Linked DNA regions of Homo sapiens. The protein of the gene in region 1 purifies or fractionates together with the protein of each later gene. This does not show direct contact. Each region holds a gene or a part of one and is shown in the gene's direction. Other genes may lie near its edges. The genes, in order: ANAPC16, NEK2 and ANAPC13.

What was found.
Region 2: the proteins of ANAPC16 (region 1) and NEK2 purify together in Homo sapiens (affinity purification with mass spectrometry; 2 studies listed by BioGRID and IntAct, with this or other methods). This does not show direct contact.
Region 3: the proteins of ANAPC16 (region 1) and ANAPC13 purify together in Homo sapiens (affinity purification with mass spectrometry; 4 studies listed by BioGRID and IntAct, with this or other methods). This does not show direct contact.

What each region holds. Positions count from the first base shown.
Region 1 is NC_000010.11:72,225,919-72,233,580, forward strand, and holds part of ANAPC16 (anaphase-promoting complex subunit 16), read left to right. Parts: intron 1-4,447; coding exon 4,448-4,522; intron 4,523-7,082; coding exon 7,083-7,198; 3' UTR 7,199-7,662. UniProt on the Homo sapiens protein: Component of the anaphase promoting complex/cyclosome (APC/C), a cell cycle-regulated E3 ubiquitin ligase that controls progression through mitosis and the G1 phase of the cell cycle.
Region 2 is NC_000001.11:211,662,164-211,666,175, reverse strand, and holds the end of NEK2 (serine/threonine-protein kinase Nek2), read left to right. Parts: intron 1-2,523; coding exon 2,524-2,750; 3' UTR 2,751-3,404; downstream 3,405-4,012. UniProt on the Homo sapiens protein: Protein kinase which is involved in the control of centrosome separation and bipolar spindle formation in mitotic cells and chromatin condensation in meiotic cells.
Region 3 is NC_000003.12:134,482,751-134,490,390, reverse strand, and holds the start of ANAPC13 (anaphase-promoting complex subunit 13), read left to right. Parts: upstream 1-4,405; 5' UTR 4,406-4,439; exon of another isoform or gene 4,440-5,071; intron 5,072-7,459; 5' UTR 7,460-7,486; coding exon 7,487-7,585; intron 7,586-7,640. Other genes in the region: CEP63 (centrosomal protein of 63 kDa), read right to left, coding at 3,664-3,671. UniProt on the Homo sapiens protein: Component of the anaphase promoting complex/cyclosome (APC/C), a cell cycle-regulated E3 ubiquitin ligase that controls progression through mitosis and the G1 phase of the cell cycle.

The sequences.
Region 1 (7,662 bases):
AAAGCTTTGGGGAATAACCTATTAAGGATTCAAAATTTACTTGATTCTAGTATTTTAGTGCTTAATTATATATTGATCTTTTTTCCTTTAAGTGTTGCAATTTTTTTTTTTTTTTGAGACAGAGTCTCGCTCTGTTGCCCAGGCTGTAGTGCAGTGGCTCGATCTTGGCTCACTACAACCTCTGCCTCCCGGGTTCAAGTGATTCTCCTGCCCCAGCCTCCCAAGCAGCTGGGATTACAGGTGCCCACCACCACACCTGGCTAATTTTTTTAATATTTTTAATAGAGGCAGGGTTTCGCCATGTTGCCCAGGCTGAGCTTGAACTCCTGACCTCAAATGATCTGCCCACCTCAGCCTCCCAAAGTGCTATGATTACAGGCATGAACCACCGCACCTGGCCTTAATATTTCAAATTTACACAACTATATTTTAAAACTAATCTAGGAATATCTGTGAGAAAGATACAAACTATAGGCCAGGCATAGTGACTCACACCTGTAATCCCAGCACTTTGGGAGGCTGAGGCAGGCAGATTGCTTGAACCCAGGAGTTTGAGACCAGCCTGGGCAACATGACGAAATCCTGTCTCTAGAAAAAATAGAAAATTAGCTGGGTGTGGTGGCACGTGGCTGTAGTCCCAGCTACTTAGGAAGGTGAGGTGGGAGGTTCACCTGAGCCTGGGAGGTGGAGGCTGCAGTGAGCTGTGATCGCATCACTGCATTCGAGCCTGGGTGATGGAGACCTTGTCTCAAAAAAAAAAAAAGAAAAGAAAAGATACAAACTATAGTTGGCCTTGGGGGTGATGAATAATCAGAAATAATAAAAAGAGTTACGGGTTAAGCCCAAAATCATTTGTGACAGGAAACCACGGGGGGACTCTGGGACCATAGAGCTCCCTAGGATTGGTTTGGGTTATGACTAGTGGTGAGGTAGATGACCAGGTAGCATATGTAATTAGTGATACATGTACTTCTCTCTTTGCCTTTTTATTTTCTTTAATTGTGTTAACTAAATACTCAAGTTAGTATCACTGAGTCTGGTTAGAAGTAGTGAACAATTGGGGCCCTGTTACCATATTTGGTGCTAAAACTATATTATGACTTCATTTATATGCAGCAAAGACCTAGTATTAAGGAAGTTTCCCACAAAACAAATCAAAAATGGGAGACACTTAAATTGCTTAATGAGTTTTATAGCAGCAGAAGAATCCATATTCAACAATGGAGCTCTAAGATTAAAGTCATTTAAATTCTAGCTATAAGAGGAATTTAATACAGGAGGTACCTCCACAGTCTCAAAGCTATCAGCATTCTTTGTCAGTATACATCAAATTATGTGGAGATATTGAAGAAGAAAGGCTTCTGAGATTAGTCTGAATGTTGATGTTCTAACGAGTTATAGATCTATCCATTTTTATTCCATCTCAATATGCTTCATGGAGAAATGTGTTGTGTTTCTGTTGTAGGATACATTTATATTAAGTATAAATACACAGTGCACAGTTTTGATTGTGTTTCTTACATTTCAAGTTTTACCAATAATCTTAAATCTTAAAAAGATTAAGATAATCTTTAAAAATCTAAAATCTTAAGAATATAAAGAGTATTACACTTAAAGACTGAAAAATAATGTAGAGATGGCAACCCCTAAACCCATTTAATATTCTTGGTCAAATCAAGAATATTAAATTGAGAAGAGTACTCTGAAATGTAAGGATGTTGGATTTGGAAGCATTTTCTACCATGTTTATAGGTGATACTATTCTATTATACAATAAATCTAACACACATGTACCTGACCAATAATAGTTTAATAGAATATGAAAATAGAGGCCGGGCACGGTGCCTCACGCCTGTAATCCCAGCACTTTGGGAGGCCGAGGTGGGCGGATCACCTGAGGTCAGGAGTTCGAGACCAGCCTGACCAATATGGTGAAACCCCACCTCTACTAAAAATACAAAAAAAAAAAAAAAAAGGCATCGTGGTGTGTGCCTATAGTCCCAGCTACTCAGGAGGCTGAGAGAATTGCTTGAACCCAGGAGGCGGAGGTTGCAGTGAGCCGAGATCATGCCACTGCCCCCCAGCCTGGGCGACAGAGCGAGACTTGGTTTAAAAAAAAAAAAAAAGGATATGAAAATAGAGCAGGAAGGGTTGCCTGTCAAGAGTAAGGAACAAAAGCAGTTAGGAATCAAGGATGGATGCTGTTTTTAATCTCAAAAGGTTCAACTTGATGTTACATCCTTGTGAGTCTAGGATAGTAAACCCAAATCACCTGTAGTTAACCTTGTGAATTAACTTTTTTGTGCCTCTGCTCTCTGATAACAGACACCTCACATAAGCAGCATACAGCAGTTTGCAGCATTCTCCTGCCCTTGGCCAAAATTGTCCTCACCCAGTTATTACTGAGCACATTAGAAACTGCCTTCCAGCCCATCAGTGGCTGTATTTTAGAGACATTGTAGCCACTGAAGTATAAATTATCTGGCATTGTCTAATTGCCTACTGTGAGGTAATATTCTTTTTAATGTATTTGTTACCATCCTTATTTATTGGAGTTGGCTATGGTGTTAGATTTGGGTAATTTACTAAACTTTTCCCTGTTTATGACCTGTGCTTGTCCCTGACAAGGAAAGCTGATGTATTGCTACCTGCTGTGTTACAAAGGGTTTGATTACAGTTTCTAAATGGAAGAGATTGCCCCCAGCTGACTCCGTTCTGGAGCAATTCCAGGCTTTAGACTGGTACTGATACCACATCTAATAGGATGTGGCTAAGAAGCAATTGGACTTGGACGTTAATAGGGAGCTGCAAATCAGCAAAAGTGTGTTCCACAGGCATATAGTGTGGTGGAGTGAAATGCAGAGGTTCCTTTTTGAAAGTTTAGCTTATATCCTTTTGCTTTGAAGTTCATTACCAAGGAAAATATGCAAATATCACAACTTAACTATTTTATCCTAATGGTGCCTGTGATTAAATGCAAGTGAGAGGTGGCACTTTCAGGAGCTTCCATATACATCTTGGCCTGATCCTTATAGCCTATAATTCCCACTGCCTTGTGTGTAATCCTAAAGTTCAGGATCAAACCATCTGGGAGGTAAACTCTAATTGTCTATGCTTTCCTCTTTCTAAAATAAAATATGAGTTATAATTGGACTTTTTAAGCAAGAATATGAATAGGATAATGACTGCTGACATTCAAACCCCTTTTTTTTTTGAGACTGAGTTTGAATTTACAGAATGTAACACTGTCTCTGAAGAATACAAAAAGTATACATCCCAATAATTATACTTTCATTTTTTTCTTTTTCTCTTTTTTTTTTTTTTTTGATCACTTTGAAGATGATATTGGAAGGATGCCCTCTTGGTTATATATTCAAGCTCTTTGGATACAGTATCTATAGTTGTTTTTTTTTTTAATTGGTTATTGTGACTTCTGAAATAAGGTTTCCTTTGTGTGAAACTCAGCATGAGGCCAGAATGTGTTAGTCCTGTCTGCTTGCCATGTAATACCTGGCCAACACAACAACCCATGATTGATGGGTGAATGCTTGAGGCCTAGTAGTGCTAACGTGAAGTACTGCCTGAAAAAGGACAGCTGTGTCCTCTCTCCCCGTTTGTTTTAGGATTTTCGCAATAAGGTACATCCCCCAAATGGTTTCTGCTACCTTTTTAAAAATCAAATGTTTCTACGTGAGCTGTAAATTTTTGAGAATATGTTTTGCTGTATCAGCCCTTGCCTGACAAGGAATAACATGAACTAGCTTATGTTTCATGATCATCTTCCAAGTGCTGTGGCAACTGAGTTGGCCACTTCTTGTTGGCAGTTCTTGGCACCAGTACAATTCTAGGTTCTGAACTTGCACCATACTCTTATCGTCATCCAAATTGCAGTGTTTTGGTTCAGTTGGAAAATCAAGGTTACAGTTTGCGTTCACAGAATGAAATTTCCCAGCAGTGTTCTGTGATTGTCAGAGTGATGTAATTTGATATATTAAAAATCAACAATTTTTTCCTCAGCTTTGTTTTTTAGACTGAAAATGATTTGGAGTTTTGGTGAACCTTTATATTTTGACACTACAGGAGCCAGCCACAAGGCCAAATGTGTCAGCTGCCAGTGTTTGCTTGACATACAGGAGAACATTAAGGAACTCTCAGGTTGGGAGGAGGGAAGTGTTGACCAGGACATCAGACGGAGGTTTCTTGTTTTTGTTTTTTTAAACACTATTTTTAAACTCTTAAGTAGAGGGACTATTTTAATATTCTAGGTATAGAATAAATAGCTTTTATAACAGTCTTAGTTCTAAATGAAGCAGAACCCGTCTTTGTAAACACTGAGAACTAGACCCTGAATGTACAAGCAGGGAAAAGAATAGACAAGTTTACTTGGTTTATCAGAAGCCATAAAACCTTTAGAGCAGATTAAAACCTTTTCTCCTTTTGTTTGTAGATGGCTCTGAGAGATTCCTCTGCGAATCTGTTTTTAGCTATCAAGTGGCATCCACGCTTAAACAGGTGAAACATGGTAAGCACATGAGTGTTGCGTACTTGACTGTGAGAATAAATTTGCTAGGGGGTGGATGAGGCTGTGACAAAAATCCCCAAACTCAGCAAGGCTATTTTAGTGGACTTCCTAAATTAAAGAACATTCTAGGTCTTAATCTAGTCATAATGTCCACATTGAGGCTTAAGGTTGGGGCCGAGTGCAGTGGCTCACGTTTGTAATCCCAGCACTTTGGGAGGCTGAGGCGGGTGGATCACTTGAGGTCAGGAGTTTGAGACCAGCCTGGCCAACATGGTGAAACTGCATCTCTACAAAGAAAAAATTAGTCAGGCATGGTGGCGCATACCTGTAGTCCCAGCTACTTGGGAGGCTGAGGTGGGAAGATCACTTGAGCCCGGGAGGTTGAGGCTGCAATGAGCCGGAATCACAGCACTGCACTCTAGCCTGTGCAACAGAGACCCTGTCTGAAAAACAAAAAAAGTTGGTCCTCCAGGGAGTCAGTGCTTCCTGCTCCTCTTGTGTTACTTTTTCCTCTCCTGTCTGAAACCTCCTTTTACTGTTGTCCTCCACTGGTTACCATCATCATCTTCAAGTATTTGTACGATACCTCCTGGTCTGTCTATACTCTAACATCCTGATAACACTTTTTCTGTTACATTAGGCCTCACCAGGCCTTCATTTCTGCATCAACAAACTGTGTTCCCCCTCCAGACCATTTCTCCATTGAAACTTTATGTAGGGGGAAAAGCTGTAATTGCCTCTAACCCTAGGATTTTAGTCCACAAATCACTATGGCATAGAGGATGAGTACTTTTTTTAGGAACAGAGCACATCCAGGCCGGGTGCAGTAGCTCATGCCTCTAATCCCAGCACGTTGGGAGGCTGAAGCAGGAAGACTGCTTGAGCCCAGGAGTTCAAGACTGACCTGGGCAACATGGTGAAACCCCATATCTAAAAAAAGAAAATACAAAAATTAGTGGAGAATGGTGGTGCATGCCTGTGGTCCCAGCTACGTGGGAGGCTGAGTTGGGACGATCGCTTCAGCCCAGGAGGCATACTCCAGCCTTGGTGACAGAGTGAGACCCTGTCTCTGGAAAAAAATAGGGCACATCCTGAAAATGTGATCATTTTATTTTAAAATGACTTTTATTTTTTGAGACGGAGTCTCTCACTGTCACCCGGGCTGGAGTGCAATGGCATGATCGCGGCTCACTGCAACCTTTGCCTCCTGGGTTCAAGTGATTCTCCTTCCTCAGCCTCACAAATAGCTGGGACTACAGGTGCACGCCACCACGCCCAGCTAATTTTTGTATTTTTAGTAGAGATGGGGTTTCACCATGTTGGCCAGGATGGTCTTGATCTCTTGACCTTGTGATCCGCCTGCCTTGGCATCCCAAAGTGCTTGGATTACAGGCATGAGCCACTGCGCCCAGCCTTTCTTCTTTTAACATTAGAAGAAACTTCCAACTTAAAAAAAAAAAAATAGGCCGGGCACGGTGGCTCATGCCTATAATCCCAACAATTTGGGAGGCTGACACGGGCGGATCACCTGAGGTCGGGAGTTCGAGACTGGCCTGACCAACATGGAGAAACCCCATCTCTACTAAAAATACAAAATTAGCCAGGCATGGTGGCATATGCCTGTAATTCCAGCTACTCGGGAGGCTGAGGCAGCAGAATCGCTTGGACCCAGGAGACAGAGGTTGCAGTGAGCTGAGATCACACCATTGCACTCCAGCCTGGGCAATAAGGGTGAAACTCTGTCTCAAAAAAAAAAAAAAAAAAAAAAAAAAATTAAGCTTCTGACCAGCATAGAATAAGACCCCATTATGAGAATTTTGAGGGTCGGGCACAGTGGCTCACGTCTGTAATCCCAGCACTTTGGGAGGCTGAGGCAGGCAGATCACCTGAGGTCAGGAGTTCGAGACTAGCCTGGCCAACATGGTGAAACCCCATCTCTACAAAAATAAAAAACTTAGCTGGGCACGATGGCGGGTGCCTGTAGTCCCAGCTACTCAGGAGGCTGAGGCGGGAGAATCACTTGAACCCACGAGGCAGAGGTTTCAGTGAGCCGAGATCGCGCCATTGCACTGCAGCCTGGGCAACAAAGCAAGACTCCATTCCCCACCCCCACCCCACCCCCCAAAAAAAGAGAGAGAATCTTGAGGAGAAAAAAAAATCCATCTAGAAATTTTTTTTTTTTGAGACGGATTCTCACTCTGTCACCAGGCTGGAATGCAGTGGCACGATCTCGGCTCACTGCAACCTCTGCCTCCAGGGTTCAAGCGATTCTCCTGCCTCAGCCTCCCGAGTAGCTGGGACTACAGGCGCATGCCACCACGTCCAGCTAATTTTTTTTGTATTTTTATAGAGATGGGGTTTCACCATATTGGCCAGGATGGTCTCGATCTCTTGACCTCGTGATCCGCCCGCCTCGGCCTCCCAAAGTGCTGGGATTATAGGCGTGATCCACCACACCCGGCCTAGAAATTATTTTTATACCAGTCATCATCTTGGTGGCTGGTGGCAGTCTCTTGGGTAATACGTTGTTGCATAATATTCTTTCCTTGACTCCTTACAGATCAGCAAGTTGCTCGGATGGAAAAACTAGCTGGTTTGGTAGAAGAGCTGGAGGCTGACGAGTGGCGGTTTAAGCCCATCGAGCAGCTGCTGGGATTCACCCCCTCTTCAGGTTGATACTGCCTGGATGGTCACCTCTGGTGCGCAGCAAGTGCAAAGCCAGTGGGGGACTTTCTCACAGCTTACATAGCCATCCAGAGATCCACAGCTACGTCACTGAATTGTTAATGCACATTTGTACTTGGTTTCTCTGTATCTATTCACAGGCAACAAATACTTATATGTGTGATCTTTCAGGGAATGTTTTGTTTATTTGTTTTTAAAAGTATTGGGAATCAGATTAAGACAATCAGTTTCAGAGAACCAGGAGGTTTGGGGTTAAGAGATACTCAAAAATTTTCACAAGCCAAGTAGGGCATATATCAGATTTGGCCAACTGAATGGCGTCTGTCCTGTCATCCATATGGTGCCTGGAAATATTTACCAGTCAAGGTCAAGGTCAGCATCTGTGGTTAAAAATATAGCATTCTGACCTAAAAAAGTTATTTTGCAGATGAATGTGTTTTCAACTCAGGACCTAT
Region 2 (4,012 bases), on another chromosome or scaffold:
GCACTGAGATGTGGTTATCGTATATACCAGTGAACCATTGTCTAACATTCTCCATTTTATAGAAACCCTCAATCTAATTTAATCGACTCTTTAAGATTATGTAAAATGCAAACTGTGAAACATCTTTTTGCTTGATTTATGACACAAACTAACTGTTAAAAGTTGTTGGTTTCAAAAATCGAGCATCTGAATTTTCAATAAAATTTAGAGTTTTTATAACTCCCTTATTCCATGTAGGACAGCATATATGAAAGCTATTATTCCCATCTTTAATAAATTGAGATGTAGTGTGATCAATTTAGTGAGCATTGGCAGCATTTTGTAAATGGAACAGACAAAAAACCCTACTTAAGTTAGATTGATGATCACAATAACTTTGTAGTGAATAAGTGATGGAAAGAAATGAAACTACTGATAGAAGTAAATGAAACAAGGATTATATGAAACTTTGGCTTCATCTCTGTTAAAATACCTTCTTTTTTCCCAATATTGCAGTCTACCATTTCAATATTATAAAAATATTTATTCTGGCTTTTCATAGATTCCACACTGTCATCCATAAAGACAAAATAGACTTAAATCATGATTAGGGTGATAAAATGAGGAGAAAATTTTACCTGGATGAATTTCATGCATCAAACCCATTGCAGAGAATTACTTAAGACCCTGTTGGGGATGGCTGTTCGGTTAAAGAGTTTATTTACATTTGCCCTGATAGTCTTTGAGCAAAAGATGAAAATAGCTAAGTAAGGATGATGTGTTTTACTTTATAGGATACACAGATAAGTATGGGAATCTACTTATATGTGAATCATGGCAAATATTTAAAATGAGCCATAGGAATCAAGTATCCACTGGGGCAAGCAGACATTTTAGGGTATTGAGTGCTGAAAGTAGTGAACACATCAGAGCTATAAGATAAGCATCATAGCAGTGGGGAGCGGGTACCATTCTGAACTCAGGACAGTTGGAAATATTCTCTCCCCATCCTTGGGCTATAAAATCCACACGTGAGGAAGCCATCACAAGTATATTGAAATCATCACAGCAAGCAGCAGTGTCTTTTTTAAAAGCTGTTCTTTTCGTATTTGATGAAATATTCATTCTTCTATTTAATGGAAGAATTTTAAAAATGTTTTTAAAACACTTTCTTTCTTATAAAACTGTCCCATTAAGAGCCAAGTGTGGTGACGCACCTATAGTCCCAGCTACTCTGGGGCTCAGGCAGGAAGATCACTTAAGCCGAGGCGTCCAAGGCTGTAGTGCACTACAGCTGCACCTGTGACTAGCCACTGCACTCCAGCCTGGAAAACATGGCAAGACCCCATCTCAGACAAAAACAAAAACAAAATAAAACTATCCCATTAGTAAGACAATGTTGACTTACAAATGTAAAGGTATTTGTGGTAATAAGAAGGTGGATAGAGTTGAAACAGTGGAGATAAGGTCTAAAAGCAATCCAGTTTGCTTTGAAGCAGAAGCGACGTATGAAGCGGGAAGTCACAGGACCCTTGGAAGGCAGTGCATCTGTGTGCCAGCCTTTCCTATTTCTTCTGCCTGGAGCACTCTTCATCCAGACAGCCCTGTGGCTTCTTACTTCAGAAATGCTGTATGAGGCTTTGTATCATTACACCCAGCACCCAGCACCCAGCATGTCCCTGTTTCCAGAGCTATTTTTCCTAATAGCACGTATTACCATCAAATATTCCCCACCAGTACTTGTTTGTTTGTGTTTGGTTTATCTCCTCCTACTAGAATAGGGCCTTTGTTTGGTTCACAGTGGCCCATCCTATGAGCTCAGTAAATATTCGAACATATTTCCTTTAACACAAAAAATAAAAGGATTCTAGAATCTGTAAGCCTCCAGCCCCCAGTAATTCTGTCAGCAGTTAATAGTGTTGCCACTTTAAGTAAATATGATTATTATTTATTTTTTCCATGTAAAGAATAGTTTACAGTTTTTACTACTCTTACTTGATTTACCTTTTCCACACTGAATTTGTTTAGATTTTTTGGAAACAGATTTCTCGTCCATTAAGATGCTTTGAACTAAGTGTTCTTGAACATTTAACCAAAACTGTAGGTGTTCTCTATTTAAAAAAAAAAAAAAAAACAAAGACAGAAAAAAACCTCTGCTTCTACACTTTTCTGTAGGTAAGGTGTTCTGCATAGAATGGCACTTATTTTCAAGGACAGAGATAAATAACATTGATTTCCAAAAGTTTTATGTTGTCCATAATACTCAGTGTGTTTAAGAGTAAAATTGATTGTTGGTTGTTAAGAGAATAAAACTTATGTTCCTTGAATTTTGGCACATTCCAATATTATTTTTTCAATGCTGTGGATTAAAAGGCTGATTTCTGCAAGTCCTACACCCCTAACCTCCTATCCCAGAGAAAATAAAACAGGCACCTAGATTTCAAATGTGAGCCATAAGAGCAAATACTTTTTGATAAGTATAAGTATGAAGGAGTTGAACTCTGTTCAAGTAACTCAGAGCCCTTTTTCTTTTTCCTTCTAAAGAACTTCTTAATCTTCCATCCTCAGTAATTAAGAAGAAAGTTCATTTCAGTGGGGAAAGTAAAGAGAACATCATGAGGAGTGAGAATTCTGAGAGTCAGCTCACATCTAAGTCCAAGTGCAAGGACCTGAAGAAAAGGCTTCACGCTGCCCAGCTGCGGGCTCAAGCCCTGTCAGATATTGAGAAAAATTACCAACTGAAAAGCAGACAGATCCTGGGCATGCGCTAGCCAGGTAGAGAGACACAGAGCTGTGTACAGGATGTAATATTACCAACCTTTAAAGACTGATATTCAAATGCTGTAGTGTTGAATACTTGGTTCCATGAGCCATGCCTTTCTGTATAGTACACATGATATTTCGGAATTGGTTTTACTGTTCTTCAGCAACTATTGTACAAAATGTTCACATTTAATTTTTCTTTCTTCTTTTAAGAACATATTATAAAAAGAATACTTTCTTGGTTGGGCTTTTAATCCTGTGTGTGATTACTAGTAGGAACATGAGATGTGACATTCTAAATCTTGGGAGAAAAAATAATGTTAGGAAAAAAATATTTATGCAGGAAGAGTAGCACTCACTGAATAGTTTTAAATGACTGAGTGGTATGCTTACAATTGTCATGTCTAGATTTAAATTTTAAGTCTGAGATTTTAAATGTTTTTGAGCTTAGAAAACCCAGTTAGATGCAATTTGGTCATTAATACCATGACATCTTGCTTATAAATATTCCATTGCTCTGTAGTTCAAATCTGTTAGCTTTGTGAAAATTCATCACTGTGATGTTTGTATTCTTTTTTTTTTTCTGTTTAACAGAATATGAGCTGTCTGTCATTTACCTACTTCTTTCCCACTAAATAAAAGAATTCTTCAGTTTCCCTGTAGTTATGTGTCTTGCATTTGTTGGTCTCTTAGTTGATGGGAGTTGTGTTTATGATTTGTAGGTCTTCATTGTAGGGTACAGAAGGAAACATGGATCTGATGCTCAAGGGAGTGGCATTCCAGTCCTAAACTGTATGGCGCTTTACCTCCCATCTCATTAATCCATGTATGTAAGCCAGTGGTCCTTAACAGGGTGATTTTGCTCCTCAAGAGACGTTTGGCAATGTCTGGGGGCATTTTTGATTGTCATGATTTGGGGTAGGGTGCTACTGGCTGCTAGTGGGTACAGGCCAGGGACACTGTAAACATTTTACAATGCACAGGACAGCTGCTGACAACAAAATGTCCATGGGTTTGGATCATAATCCTGAATGATACAATCTCAAATGCGAAAATCCTGAAAGACCAAAATCCCTAATGTCTTAAATCCCAAAAGATCAGAATCCCTAATGTGTGAACTTCCAAAATCACAATCCTGAAAGATTAAAATCCCAGATGTTAAAATCCTGAAAGCCGAATTTGAGGTTAGGGATTAGTGCCGTTTCAGCTGTATACAGGATAATTGCATCATGTTAGGCAGAACTATTACCTTGTTATTGTCTTCATTTGG
Region 3 (7,640 bases), on another chromosome or scaffold:
ATAGCCTGTTAACTTGAAACCATTATATATAACATAGGATGAGGAAAAAAAACTAATTCTATTAATGGCACTAGGCACCAAGACTCAGCAAAAAAGATACAAACATAAATCCAACGTGTGAAAAAACTGTAAAATTAAGTTTAAATTTTGGAAATTTAAATGTTAAATGTTGGAAACAATGCGAATTTTGCATATTTGTGTTTTTTTTAATATATAATATTTCCTAACTCTGGCCACCATAAATCCTAGAACTAACGACTAACCTAGTAGCAAGAACACCTCTCCCACCTAGGTAAGACTGTGGTCTCCAAATACTATCTCAGACTCAAAAGAACCACGGCTCCTTGAAGACCAGAAATCTATAAATGAGCCAGGAAAATTATTTACCAGAAAGCAAGGAAATTACCAAAGCTATTGGTCATATCAAATGGAATAGGAGCCAACTTTAAGGAGCTCCCACTGGCCAAAGATGAAACAATTTGAGTATTAAAAACACAACTGCCATATGTTGAAACAGTTTAAATATAAAGTCTATAAGTTCATGATTATAGGTTTACAAAAAGGCAAAAACCCTCATGGTTACCTTTGGAGGCTGCTAGGCCACCAACTCATTACTGTGGTCTGAAAATAGAGGCAAAGAATTAAGCATTTTTCTTGCCTTTCCTGTACAAATTGTATTTCAGGGTAGTCAAACAGCTGGAAAGGGAAAGTTCTTCATAAAAGACTCTCAGTTGATAAATATTGAAGAAATAATAGAATTAGATAATCACCACGTTGCAACCTCTAATGCAATAACGGATACAGGCAATATAACCCCACAAAAGGACTTCACCACTAAGTGAAAGAGTCTTGGGGAATTTCACTATGGGTGGATGGAGCTAACTACACCTAAACCCAATATAATGTTTAATGTTAACATCATAAAAAAAGAAAACAACTCAGACACTGCTTCCCTGATAATTAATGAAATAGGAAGTATACTGCATTACCTATGAAATTATCTGTCCAACCCCCCCAACTATCCCACCAAAAAACAAAACAAAAACAAATATAAGGGTGAAATCTCATCAGGCTTCTAGAGCAGTGCTGTTCAATACAACTTTCTGCAATTATGAAAATATTTTATAACTGCACTGTTCAAAAAGCAGCCACCAGGCAATCTGTAGCTACCGAGCACTTGAAATGTGGCTAATGCAAGTTAGGAACTGAATTTTTTTTTTTTTTTTTTTTTTGAGACAGTCTCGCTCCGTCACCCAGGCTGGAGTGCAGTGGCGTGATCTCGGCTCACTGCAACCTCCACCTCCCGGGTTCAAGCGATTCTCCTTCTCCTGCCTCAGCTTCCTTAGTAGCTGAGATTACAGGCGCATGCCACCACGCCCGGCTAATTTTTCATTTTTAGTAGAGACGGGGTTTCACCATGTTGGTCAGGCTGGTCTCGAACTCCTGACCTCGTGATCCACCCACCTCAGCCTCCCAAAGTGCTGGGATTACAGGCGTGAGCCACCGCGCCCAGCCTAGGAACTGAATTTTTAATTTTATTTCACTTTAATTAACTAGCCACTGCTGGCTGGTGGCTACAATACCGGACAGTGCAATTCTACATCTAACTACTGGTTTAGAGCAGTGGTCCCCAACCTTTTTGGCACCAGGGACCTGTTTCATGGAAGACAATTTCTCAACACCGACAGGGCGGAAATAACACATTTTGTAAATATCTTTTTGTTAAAATTCATATGAAATGTTTTGGGGGAGGAATGGCCAAACCACTTTTTTTTGTTTTTTGAGACCGAGTCTTGCACTCTTGCCTGGTCTGGAGAGCAATGGTGTGATCTCGGCTCACTGCAACCTCCGCCTCCCGGATTCACGTGATTCTCCTGCCTCAGCCTCCCGAGTAGCTGGGATTACAGGCGCACACCACCACACTCGGCTAATTTTATTGCATTTTCAGTAGAGACGGGGTTTCACTATGTTGGCCACACTGGTCTCAAACTCCTGACCTCATGCCCACCTCGGCCTCCCAAAGTGCTGGGATTACAGGCGTGAGTCACCGCGCCCGGCCAACCACTTCTTCAGTAATATGAATAATACACATGGACAGGGTTAGGGGCATGGTTTCAGGATGAAACTATTCCACCTCAGATCATCAGGCATTAGTCAGATTCTTATAAGTGTGCAACCTAGATTCCTTGCATGCGCAGTTTACAATAGGGTTCGTGCCCCTAGGAGAATCTAACCTCACGGCTGATCTGACAGGAGGCAGAGCTCAGGTGGTAGGTAATGCTCACTAGCCTGTCACTCACCTCCTGCTCTGTAGCCTGGTTCCTAACAGGCCACGGACTGGTACTGCTCTGCGGCCCCGGGTTTGGGGGCCCCTGGTTTAGAGGACACAAAGGCAACAGAGATACATGTTAAAGGATACTGTGCGATGCAATCTGCTAAATTTAGAACTGTAAGGAAAAATAGGGGCTAATCCCATAGCTATAACTATGAGGGAACAAATATAGATTAAAAGATGTCAAATGTGCATCACCCAAACACAATAGGCAGATCCCTGTGGGATTTTGGTTCAAACAAGCTAATTGTAAAAAGACATTTAAGAGACAGTTGAAGAAATCGTTATCTGACTGGATATTGACATTAGAGAATTTTTATTAATTTGTGTATGTGTAATGACAGTACTGTGGCTCTGTAAAACTGAAAAACCTAGCTCCTGATGGGGGCGGGGAGGCGGACTAAAATAACATAAAGATCGGAGATTCAGTTCCTGAAACCTTCTGTCAATGTTGGCTTTAGCTGAATTTCAAGTCAAGTTGACATTTTTTGAAAGCAGGAAGCAATGACAGAGTGGACTACTGATGCTGTCACCATCTGCCAGCACAACATAAATTAGAACAGAAAGGACTAAGCAAAGGTCTTCCACCATTTTAACGAGAGGAAATGGCATCAGTACAATCAACATACACAATTTTTACAAACAACTTTTAGATTTGCATCTACATACATTTTAAAAGGCAGTGTGCCTGTTTATAAATCTCTACTCTAATTTAGTTTCAGAGCTTTTTACTACCCTGATCACTGATAATGCCACAGTCAAAAAGCAAACTCAAAATAAAAATCAATCTAAAAATGGTACTGCATGCCAAATAAGAAAATATATACACTTTATCATTAAGCTACAGCTAACAGAAATCTAATCAACGATCCTTATGATTTCCTCGTATCTAAAAAATAAATGCAAGCACTTGAGGAACTGTATAAATACAGGGCATCTACCCTACAATACTGCTTTATTAAAATAATAAATTCTTTTAATAAGTTTAACCAGACATAAGGCTCAGGGAAAACTACTCTGTGCATATCAGCGTACGGTGCTGAAACTGTAAAAGACGACCTGTCTCTGACATCATACTCATCTTTACTCTCCTGATGTCGTAAGGGACGTAAGAAAAACCACATTATAAGCCTAAATGTACTGTCTTCAAGTATCTCCATGATTAAAGTGTTCCTAAGAAACCGTCCTTATTTCTTTCTATCCCTCATTTGTGTGCATGGAGCCGTTAGTTCAGGGTTCTCCAATTTCAGTCCACGATTTATGCCACATTTCCGTACCTCTTGTACTAACATAACCGTTTAAACCAACTCACTATTTTAAAAGCTGCCAACCTTAACATGCCACACTAAATGAGCGGGTCCCCTTGTGCCGTGAATGAAGTAGTCCCAACAGCGCTAGCTAGACAGCAGCCCTGGCAGGGAGGCCGCACTGGGGTCTCTCCGCTGAAAAGGAAGGTGGGTCCGCCGGGGAAGGTGAGTACTGGGCGCAGCTCGCTCGCCCACCTGGCCACTCTCCGAAGCGCCCCCAGCCACCTGGACTCCGAGGAAGGGCTGACCACCTGGCGGGGCCGAACCCCACGCCGGGCTGCGCCACGCCAGACTCCGCCAGTGTGCAGGGCATAGCGGGCCAGGCCGAGGGACTGGGCTTCGGGGCGGACCCAAGCCGGCGGGGACGCGCCTGGTGGTTCGCAGGCCGTTGCGCAAACCGGCCGCAAGCCATGAGGCCGCGAAGCCAGAATCACCAAGGCAGCCTGGGCCGCCTCCAGACCAGGACACGGCAGCCCCTTGCCCCTCCAACTTGCGCACCGGCGGTTACAGGGTTGCCGCAAGCACGCCCCTGAGCCTTCCCGCCGTTACCTCGGGCCGGCGCTGCGCACGCGCGCCACCGCTAAGCTTACGTCCAGCCTCTGTAGTCGGCGCGTTTGTTCCGCCCACTGCCCCCACACTTTTAATAATTGAAACAATGCCTTCTCCAGACTTCCCCTGCACGCGAGCAAATGAACTCACCCACATCCGGGAATCCGAGGAAAGCGAGTGCAGACACGTGATGCGGGGGAGGGGGGGGGGGCGTGGCAGGAGCAAGCGTCTGCCGCGGTGGCCGGGTGCCGGTAAGGGTTTCCAGCGCCCCCGGCCTAGGTTTTGGAGGCGCGGGAATGCGTTCGTTGCTCAGTGTCGGACTTCCCCCTATTCCCATCGGCCGAGGCTGTCACTTTACGCTCATAACCGTTTTTCTTTACTGCACTCGTGTCGGGAGGAAAGGGACTTGCGTGGCACCCCCAGACCTCCCCGTCTCCGCTTCCACGTTTGGTACATCCTGCCTGAGGCAGGAAGCCGCAGCTGAGGGACGGCCTGTCGTACGGTGCGGATGGTGGTGGCCTGCGAGGCTCATTTCTAGCAAGGAACAAGGCTTTCCCGCTTTGATTTTATAAATATTATGTTTACAAAGCTGTAATATATAGAAATTGATAAGACGTGTCCCTGTCCCTGGAAACGCAGGCACCGCGTGTTTGGAAAGACATTCATCTGGGCTGTTTGACAGACTCCCCAGTTGGTGCCATGCTCTGTGCTTAGGGAACTGTGAGACCCCTGGAGGGGTGGGTACCGGGACCGCACTCAGCCTGGGGTTTGGAGGCGGCCTCCTATAGGAAGCGACCTGGGACCTAAGATTTTTAGACTGACTGTGGGTTCACTGGAATAAAAAGGAAGAAACAAAGAGCATTGCAGGCATCGGGACTGTCACGTGAGTAAGAAAAGTTTGTTCAGGAAACAGTGGTCGTACTGGGTGACGAGTACTTGGGACGGTGGCTTTAATACACAAGATAATCAGTGTGCCCTGGGCATTGATTATCTTGATGCTTCCCATCCTTCCAGCCCCTTATGAGGGAAGGCACCTTCGCGCCTAATCCCGGAAATGGGATGTTGACCTTCAAGAGCTGACGCCTGCGTTTATCTTGAAAGGAAGAGTGGCATTAGTGATGTGGAAAAGGGGGTTTTAACTGTCAAGGCTGGAAAATGTGACAGGGTTGGAGGTGTTTGGAGAAGGGACAGGTGAAAAAGATTGAGACCAAATGTGGAAAGATCTACTAAGGAATCATGGGTACAAAATGTACACGTAACAGTTGGAGGCAATAATACCTGAGCAATTGACCACAAAGCTGACCTAGCTTGTTTAGTAGATTAAGTTAGGACAAGAAGCAAGAGTTCAAGGATAGAAGGCCTACTGAAGCTCGAGTGATTTGAGAAAACTTTACAAAGGTGGAAAATCTACGTGGGCCTCCGAAAGTCAGGTTTGGATCAGCTGAGGAAAGTGAGAAGGGTATCCCAGGAGACAGAGCAGCAAGGACAAAGGAGTAGCAGCAGGAAAGTGGGGAGCACTTGTAAGACAGGGACTTCAAAAGTATAACCAAAACTTCGTCTTGCTTTGAGTTATCCACTGGGTAGTACTCGGTTAATTATTGAGTACTGGATTAATTAAGCCCTCACCTGGCTCACCGGTGACAGAAGTAGCAGGGCGCATTTTGCTTAACTTTTGCCGAGATCCTTGTCATGGGGGTGTAAACCCTTTCCCACACCAATCTGTGTATAATTTTTGCCAAGGTGTTAGGGATATCTTGCAGTTATCCTATGGGGGACAGCTGTGAGCCTTTTTGGTTTTTTTTGTTTTTTTTTTTCCGAGACGGAATCTTGCTCTGTCGCCCAGGCTGGAGTGCAGTGGCGCGTGGCGCTATCTCGGCTCACTGCAAGCTCCGCCTCCCAGGTTCACGCCATTCTCCTGCCTCAGCCTCCCGAGTAGCTGGGACTACAGGCGCCTGCCACCATGCTCGGCTAATTTTTTGTATTTTTAGTAGAGACGAGGTTTCACCCTGTTAGCCAGGATGGTGTTGATCTCCTGACCTCGTGATCCGCCCACCTCGGTCTCCCAAAGTGCTGGATTACAGGCGCGAGCCACCGCGCCCGGCCCTGTGAGCCATTTTTACAAAAACTTCCACCTGCCTTGGCCCAAACCTCAGCGTTCTTAGGCACAGGAGCTCATGAACATACTGAGATAACACTAAACTGGACTATGCGAAGGGACCAACTACAGACCTGACACAAATCCTCAAGGCAAGACGATGTCTGAAGTTGAGCTTGTAAAGGAAATGGCTTCCTTCCTTAAAATATCACCCAGGCTGAGCTCTGAAAAAAGCACCTCCAGATGGTGGGTTCCACCCCGCTCCACCACCCCAAAATTGCTTATTGTGTGAGTCTCCATAGTCTCAGAAACTGAGAGTACCTTTGATGCCAGTGGCTTCCGGGCTTTTTGGATTGTCACTTGGTAGCAGGGAGCACCCATAGGATGATGCCTATGATGAGTCAGGGCCCAACCTTGGAAACAGGGAAATCCAGAAGTATCCTACAAGCTAGCCAGCCTTTTGGATTAGATTATAGCAGTTTCAGAGAAAAATGGGGAATCAGCCATGGTCAAGGAGCTAAATAAGCATCGTGACCATTTGGGCCAGAAATTGAAGGGAGTGTAGCGTTAAGAATTAGAGGAAGGAACCTCCGAGGAAGGAGCTACCCCAAAGGGAAGCAGAAACTGGAGAAACTTTAGCAGTATGAGGTTCTACCACTGGTGTTCACCTAGAAGTGCTTTATTCAGATCTCAGCCTGGGTACTATTTTAGGGAAGGAAGCCGTTTCCTTTACAGTATGTTCGTGTGACTCCTGTGCCTAAGAATGCTGAGGTTTGAGCCAGGGGCTAGAAAGGAAACTTAGCTGGCCATTATGAATCAGGGACTCATCAAAGGCATCACAAACAGGAAAAGGTGAATGTTCAAGTTAGAAGAGAAGAGCTACATTGAGATGCAACATATTAATATTTGAGGGCCTCGTTTAACGTGTTGCTCTCCTGTCACACTCTATGACACTGGTCTGTCAGCTGGGCTATGCCTGTCCAGTATACACTATAAAATATGTATCAGTTGGGGTTGGAGAGAGGAACTGTGATCAAAGTAGTCACCCGGCCCATATGAGAAAATGAACCTTTTCCCAAAAGGTGGCCCCAGACTAAAAAGCCTGGAGAATCCTAATAGTGGATTATACCATCTCTTCAGTCTTCGTGTTTAAGAAATAACCTCTTTGGCTTACAGATTTGACAAGATCAAAGCTGCAGGAAAATGGACAGTGAGGTTCAGAGAGATGGAAGGATCTTGGATTTGATTGATGATGCTTGGCGAGAAGACAAGCTGCCTTATGAGGATGTCGCAATACCACTGGTAGGTTATGATTTGAGCTGAGGATGGGTTAAAGGTATTGATCTGGCAGTAACTA